2 linked regions of the Homo sapiens genome follow. The protein of the gene in region 2 purifies or fractionates together with the protein of the main gene of each other region. This does not show direct contact. Each region holds a gene or a part of one and is shown on either strand. Other genes may lie near its edges.

Region 1 (3,820 bases), on a different chromosome or scaffold from region 2:
GGCTAATTTTTTGTATTTTTAGTAGAGACGGGCTTTTACCGTGTTAGCCAGGATGGTTTCAATCTCCTGACCTTGTGATCCGCCTGCCTCGGCCTCCCAAAGTGCTGGGATTACAGGCGTGAGCCACTGCACCCGGCCTCCAGTGCATCTTTGATGGAGTCTTCCAAGCGCGGTTTCTGGGTCAAAGGACAGATCCATGTGCTTGGTCCGCCTTGGTGTCCAGTTTGCGGTTTTAGCTGCGGGGCGTCTCTGTTGAACACATATTGTGGCTTTAGTAGGATCTGGCCAGTGAGTTGCCATAACTGACGTTTCCCCTACCCTCCCTTTAGAGAAGAGAGAACAGAGCTGAGGCCTGGGAACCTAACCCCTCAGTGTTACTGATTTCTTTCATGGAAGCCCTTGTGGGCAGTGTCATCGTAAAGCTAACATCCTCTCTCTGTTTGGAATTTCAGCAAAGCTCTGCAGGAATATTCTCAGAGCTTCATCGTGTCACTCGTCCTGGGGAAGGATGTGATTCCCAGGTAAGCCCACCTGGTGCTGTGCCCAGGGCTGGGGGGTTGGGAGTGCCAGGTCCCAGCCTCAGTGTGCCCCTTTGCTAAACAGGCTCAGTGTGACCAACTTGGAAGATCTGAAGAGAAGAATCTTGCGAGTGGTCGCGCACTGCAATAAACCCAAGGTAAGCGGGTGCCTTGTTGAGAGGGTCAGCAGGACACGGGGCCTGTCCCTGAGATCCTGTGGAGAGCCGGGAGGAATTGCACCCTCAGTGCAGGGCACTCTATGCTGTTGCTGGAAGTTCTCCTTCCACCATCTGATCAGATTCTGGGCTAGGACTCTGTGATGTCTAAGAAAGCAAATGGCTGCAGCAAGTGCGGGAAATGTCACAGGGAGGAAACAGGATCTGGGCTGGGAGCAGTGGTGTATGCCTGGAATCCCAGCACCTCAGGAGGCCAAGGCAGGAGGATCCCTTGAGGCCAACCTGGGCAACACAACAAGACCCTGTCTCTATTCTAAAAAAAAAAAAAGAAAAGAAAATACTCTGGAGGAACTGTTTGATTTTGCTTTCTGACAAACTTCTTAGTCCTGTCTTGTGACTAACAGTTTGTTAATGCCTTTTGGCTTTGTTGTCCGAAAGCTTAGAAAGCAAGGCTGCCAAATAGACCTTAAGAGGTACAGGCACATTTATCTACACTGTGGATATCATGCAGTTATTAAAATGGTGATATATGTCCACGTCAAGGGTTTTTTAACATGGTGGTAGAAATTTATGTCTGCTGGCCAGGCGCGGTGGGTCACGCTTGTAATCCCAGCCCTTTGGGAGGCTAAGGCAGGCAGATCACCTGAGTCAGGAGATCGAGACCAGAGTGGTCGACATGGCAAAACCCCGTCTCTAGTAAAAATACAAAAATGAGCCAGGGGTGGTGGTGAGTGCCTGTAATCCCAGCTACTTGGTAGGCTGAGGCAGAAGAATCGCTTGAACCCAGGAGGCCGAGGTTGCATAAGCCAAGATCGCACTCCAGCCTGTTGGATAGAGTGAGGCTCTGTCTCCAAAAAGAAGAAATTTCTGTCTGCCGATAAAGATAGATATCCATTGAAAAGTTCAAAAGAAAAAAAACTTAAAAATTATTCTTAAGAGATATGACTCATGGCAGAGAGTGGGGACAAGGAGATACAGATATATGAATTTTGACAAAAATTTGAAAATACGTATGCCAAGGGTGGTTTTGTTTAGTGTCGGTAGAGATGATTTTTACTTGTTTAATCCCTTTGTTTTCTGACCTTTCTCATGGTTTTGTTCCTAATCAGAAAGAAGAAACGCAATTTAAATTTTTCTCCTTACCAATTACCTCCCCCAGTTTTTTCTTTTTTGAGACAGGGTCTCGCTTTGTCACCCAGGCTGGAGTGCAGTGGCGCAGTCTCGGCACATTGCAGCCTCCCAAGTTCAACTGATCCTCCCACCTCAGCCTCCTGAGTAGCTGGGGCTACACTACAGGCATGCGCCAACACACCTGGCTAATTTTTGTATTTTTTGTAGAGACAGGGTCTTACCATGTTGCCCAGGCTGGTCTCAAACTTCGGGGCTGAAGCAATCTGCTTGCCTTGACCTCCCAAAGTGCTGGGATTACAGGTGTGAGCCACTGCTGTGCCCAGCCTAAAATTTTTTTTAGAAATTAGTATCTAGGGCGGGCCCGGTGGCTCACGCCTGTAATCCCAGCACTTTGGGAGGCTGAGGTGGGTGGATCACCTGAGGTCGGGAGTTCGAGACCAGCCTGACTAACATGGAGAAACCCCGTCTCTACTAAAAATACAAAAAATTAGGCCGGGCGCGGTGGCTCACGCCTGTAATCCCAGCACTTTGGGAGGCCAAGGCGGGTGGATCACGAGGTCAGGAGATAGAGACCACGGTGAAACCCCGTCTCTATTAAAAATACAAAAAATTAGCCGGGTGCGGTGGCGGGTGCCTGTAGTCCCAGCTACTCTGGTGGCTGAGGCAGGAGAATGGCGTGAACCCGGGAGGCGGAGCTTGCAGAGAGCCAAGATTGTGCCACTGCACTCCAGCCTGGGCAACAGAGTGAGACTCCGTCTCAAAAAAAAAAAAAAAAAAAAAATACAAAAAATTAGCCGGGCATGGTGGCAGGAGCCTGTAAGCCGAGCTACTCAGTAGGCTGAGGTAGGAGAATCGCTTGAATTCGGGAGGCAGATTGTGGAGCCAAGATCACGCCATTGCGCTCCAGCCCATAGAAATTAATATCTAATGCCTTTCAGGGAAGGAAGGGTAAAGCTGATTTCCAGAATTGCCGGAAAATAATTAAGGGAAATATCCCTCACAGTCTGTATGGCTTAGTTTTTAATATTGCTCCACGTGTGATGGTTTTACTGCCCAAGAGAGAGCCCACACTCATGATCTGTGACTAGGCATAGAGCCTTGTCCTGAGCCGAGGTGGCTGCCACCCAGCACAGCTCGCCGGTGCATCTTTGCTGGAGTCTTCCAAGCGGGGTTTCTGGGTCAAAGGGCAGATTCCTGTGCCTGGTCCGCCTTGGTGTTTCGGGAGGTCTCGGGTGACAGAGGGTGAGTGACAGCATTCTACTGATTGGGTCTCGCCCTCAGTACAAGATCTTGCTGCACGGTTTGTGGTACGAACTGTTTGGAGGAAACCCCAACAACTTGCCCACGGAGCTGGACGGGGGCGACCAGGAAGTCCTGACACAGCCTCTTCTGGGGGAGCAGAGCCTACTGACGCGCTGGTCCCCGGCCTACAGCTTCTCCAGCGACTCCCCACTGGACTCTTCTCCCAAGTACCCCCCTCTCTACCCTCCCGGCAGGATCATCCACCTGCAGGAGGAGGGCGCCTCGGGGCGGTGAGTGCGGCGTGGTGGGTGTGGTGGGCAGGCAGGAGCAGCGCGGGGTCAGCCCTGGGGCCGCGTGGGAGCTGTCTCTCCTTTTCTGCTTCAGGTTTGGCTGCTGCTCTGCTGCTCACTATAGCGCCAAGTGGTCACACGAAGCGGAATTCAGCAAAATACTCATAGGTCCGAAGATGCTCACCGACCACATGCCAGACATCCTGATGCGGGCCTTGGACAGCGTGGTCTCCGACAGAGCGGCCTGCGTCTCCTGTCCAGCACAAGGGGTCTCCAGTGTGGACGTGGCCTGACCAGGGCCACTGGAAACTGTCCCAGGAACGATGGACTCACGCTTTTGTCCTTAAACTGACTTACCATCCGAGGAGTTCCCATGACGCCAAAACAGCGAATGTCCATCAACAGGAATCGGATGGGAACAGAATTCCATGGTCTCAATGACTTAAGTTTATGGGAAGTCATT
Region 2 (3,820 bases):
TTTTACCAAATGTAAATTATACTACAATAAAAATTATGATCCAAGTATAAATATCAAAAATCCTGGACTTTAAAAATGAACTAGCAAAGAGATAAGACAAATACTAAGAGGGGAAAACAATGAAAATGCATGAAACCAGAGAAATACAGGAAAACGCTGAAGCAAGTGGCTGCCATAGGGGTATCTGCTACTCTCATGGTCTAGAACTTCGGAACTGATGGATCGCATGTAATAGAGAGTACAGCCCACAGCACACAGAAAGTTTCAGATCAAGATGCCAGCCAGGCGCAGTGTCTCATGCCTGTAATTCTAGCACTTTGGTAGGCCGAGGTGAGAGGATTGCTTAAGCCCAGGAGTTCAAGACCAACCTGAGTAACACAGGGAGACCCTGTCTCTACAAAAAATTTTAAAAACTTAGCCAGGCATGGTGGTCCCAGCTATGCAGGAGGCTGAGGTGAGAGGATTGCTTAGGCCCGGAAGTTCAAGGCTGCAGTGTGCCATGATCACACCACTGCACTCTAGCCTGGGTGACAGTGCAAGACTCTGTCCAAAAAAAAAAAAAAAAAAAGGCTTAGAAAGCCCTCAATTTAAGGATGACTATTTCCCTGAAACCTTCTAAGGCAAATTGCCTAAGTCCTTCTAACGGAAATTGCCTAAGTCTTGGCTCTTGGTGAAGGAAAAAACAAGCCCATGCCTTTAAACATTGCAGTAAACCTGAGCTCATAATGAAAATTCACAAACACATGAGGAAAAAAGGTACCATAAGCAAGAGTCCATTGTAAATAGTAGTTTTGGCCCATAGAAACATTAGATGCTAGAATTAAATGATATAAGTATATAAAATATATTTTTAAAAGGAAAGAGAAATACAAAATATGAGTAAAAAATGAGAATGTTTTAGAAAGTGAAAAAGTACCAATAAAATATCTTGATATCAAAAATATAACAATTGGCCAGGTGCGGTGGCTCACACCTGTAATTCCAACACTTGGAGAGGCCAAGGCGGGTGGATCACCTGAAGTCACAAGTTTGAGACCAGCCTGGCCAACATAGTGGTGCATGCCTGTAATCCCAGCTACTCCTGAGGCTGAGGCAGAAGAATCACTTGAACCTGGGAGGCGGAGGTAGCAGTAAGCTGAGATCATGCCACTGTACTCCAGCCTGGGCAACAAAGCAAGATTCTGCCTCAAAAAAATAAATAAATAAAGTAGCTATGCAGGACCATGGACTAGAGTTCAGGAGAGCACGAATTCTGCCTCCAGTTTTGAGCAACATATACGTTGTTCACTTCTCTGCCCTGACTCCTCATTATCCTCTAAGTTCCATGATGACAGGATTGTGGCCCCCTCATCGGCATATCCCTATGGACTGAGCCAGGCTTGGCACATACAAAGAGTCTAAATGCTCTAAAATAAAGGTTCAGAAATAAATAAATAAAGTAGAAAACTCGATGGATGAGTTAAATGGCAAATTAGACATATCTGAAGGCAGAATTAAAGAACTGAAAAATAAATCTTGAGAGATACATACCATAATGACACAAATATAGAAAATATGAGTGAATAAAAAAAGCAAAGTGTAATGAAAGCTCTAACATGCATCTAATGAGTTCTCCAAAACTGAGTAATAGAAACAATGAGAGAAAAAACTATTTGAAGAACTATGACTCCAAATTTTCCAGAACTGAGGAAAGCCACAAACCACTAGAATTAGATAGTCCAAATATTCCAAGCAAGATTAACCAGAGACATCTATACTGAAGACATCATAGAGAAACTGCAGAATGCTGAAGACAGAGAAGTTCTTAAAAGTAGTCATAAAGAAAAGATAAATTAACTAAAAATTTATTGATTGATTATTGCTGACTTCTCAATAGCACTAATGGAAGATAGGTAATAGTGGAATAATAACTTCAAGGTGTTTAGAGAAAATGACTGTTAACCTAAATTTCTATGGTTAGACAAACCATTTGTTCAAGATTGAGGACAAAATAAAGACATTTTGGATACCCCCAAACTGAAAAATCTTACAACCACTAGGTCTTCTCTAAAAAAATTAAATAAAATACTTTTAAAGGATTCACATCAGGAAGTCAGAAAATGATTTGAGAGGTAAGAAGAAATGTTGAGCAAAGAAAATGATAAACATGTGAATAAGTCTAAATAATGATGGTATAAAATGAGGCCAATATCTATTCCATGAGATTGACATAAAACAAGACAGAAACAAAATACTGGACAAAAAATGCATATATCAGGAATGTACAAAATTGTTCACACTAGAATGACTATGTTGGGTCTATTCCAAGAATGTATATTTGGTTTAACACTGGAAAATCTATAAATGTAAGTCATTGCATTAAAAAACTAAAGCAAAATGCTGTATCATCACCTCATAGATATAGCACATGCTTCTATTGTATGGAATACTACACAGCAATGAAAATGGACAGATTATAGCTACACATATATAATGGAGAGTAAAAACATTTTGAAAAGAATATCTACAGTAAGTTTCAATCACGTAAGTTTCACAAATATGCAAAAGTAAACAACATATTGTTATTCTGGATATATGTATATATTCTAAAAAAATACATATAGTAAAATTCAAAAGCAAAGCAAGAAATTAGTAAAGAAATAATTGATTATAATATAAGTAACCTCTCAGAGGGGTAAGGAATCTTCAAAGGTATTGAAAATGTTCTATTTTTCAAACCTGGTAGTGGATTCACTAGTTTTCATTCTATTATACTTTAAAAACTGTAAGTTTATATTGTTTCGTGTACATAAATTATTAATATTAGAAAATTTTTAATTTAATTTCAATTAAATTATAAATGCTTCAAAATTTGCTTCTCAAGTATGTAGGTAAGACATCTACACAAAATATAAAAATAACAAAACACAAATCTTGTGTTTTGAATTAGAAATTAGAAAAAGGATTGAGAAACATGATTAAATTAGAAAAGGGTTGAGAAACATGAAGGAAGAGAAAAATGAGGCAAAAAGGCAACTATATAAAATATTCCCCAAAACAAAGCCAGACTAAAAGACATCACCTAAAAAAGATCTCATTCATTACATTAAAATATGGCAAAAAAAATAGACAGCAATAACTGAAATGAGAGAGATTAAAGTATCAGAATGGTTCTGGAACTAGTTAGATGGTTTAGAGTCTTTTTCCCACCTTCTACTCTTTTTCCTTGTAAGAGCTAGAAAAAATCTCTATCTTCACATAAGGCATAACAAGCATTGCAATAACCACTTACTATTTGTCTAGTACATTATGGTTAAATACTGGTTTGCTGGAGATGACAAGATAAATAACAATGGAGTCTCTGATGTGAGGGAGCTTTTCTAATGAGAGAATAAGTTCAAACTTTAGCAGGTTAGAGATGAGGTATAACTTATTGAATGTAAAGATGGTTGGAATTGTAATATTCTGTGTGGCAGAGACATTAACTACCCACTGAGTCTACCCATGTTCCCTGCAGTGCCTAGCCCCCCTGCAGGTGGTGGGACCATGTGACAAGTTCTGGTAGGAGCCATAAGTGGAAAAGATGTGTGTCACCTGATGCCAAAGCATTAAAGGGTCAGTGTGTGATCTTCCAGCTCCTCTCTTCACCTGACCTAGAGATCTGGAAACTGTGTCCAAGGATCAGATCAGAGTGATTACTGAGTTACTGCAATGAGAACAGGTGCCATGGAGAGTTGCCTAACCTGCAGAGCAGTTTGTGTAAGCAAGAAATAAAGTCTTGTGGAAAGTCACTGAGATTTCAGGATTTGCTACTGTCATGTAACCTAGCATTATGCATGCA

The links.
Region 1: the proteins of ACVR1C (region 2) and DAGLB purify together in Homo sapiens (affinity purification with mass spectrometry; one large-scale study listed by BioGRID and IntAct). This does not show direct contact.

What each region holds. Positions count from the first base shown.
Region 1 is NC_000007.14:6,409,667-6,413,486, reverse strand, and holds part of DAGLB (diacylglycerol lipase-beta), read left to right. Parts: intron 1-452; coding exon 453-521; intron 522-603; coding exon 604-676; intron 677-3,106; coding exon 3,107-3,357; intron 3,358-3,451; coding exon 3,452-3,650; 3' UTR 3,651-3,820.
Region 2 is NC_000002.12:157,534,595-157,538,414, forward strand, and holds part of ACVR1C (activin receptor type-1C isoform 1 precursor), read right to left. Parts: intron 1-3,820. UniProt on the Homo sapiens protein: Serine/threonine protein kinase which forms a receptor complex on ligand binding. The receptor complex consists of 2 type II and 2 type I transmembrane serine/threonine kinases.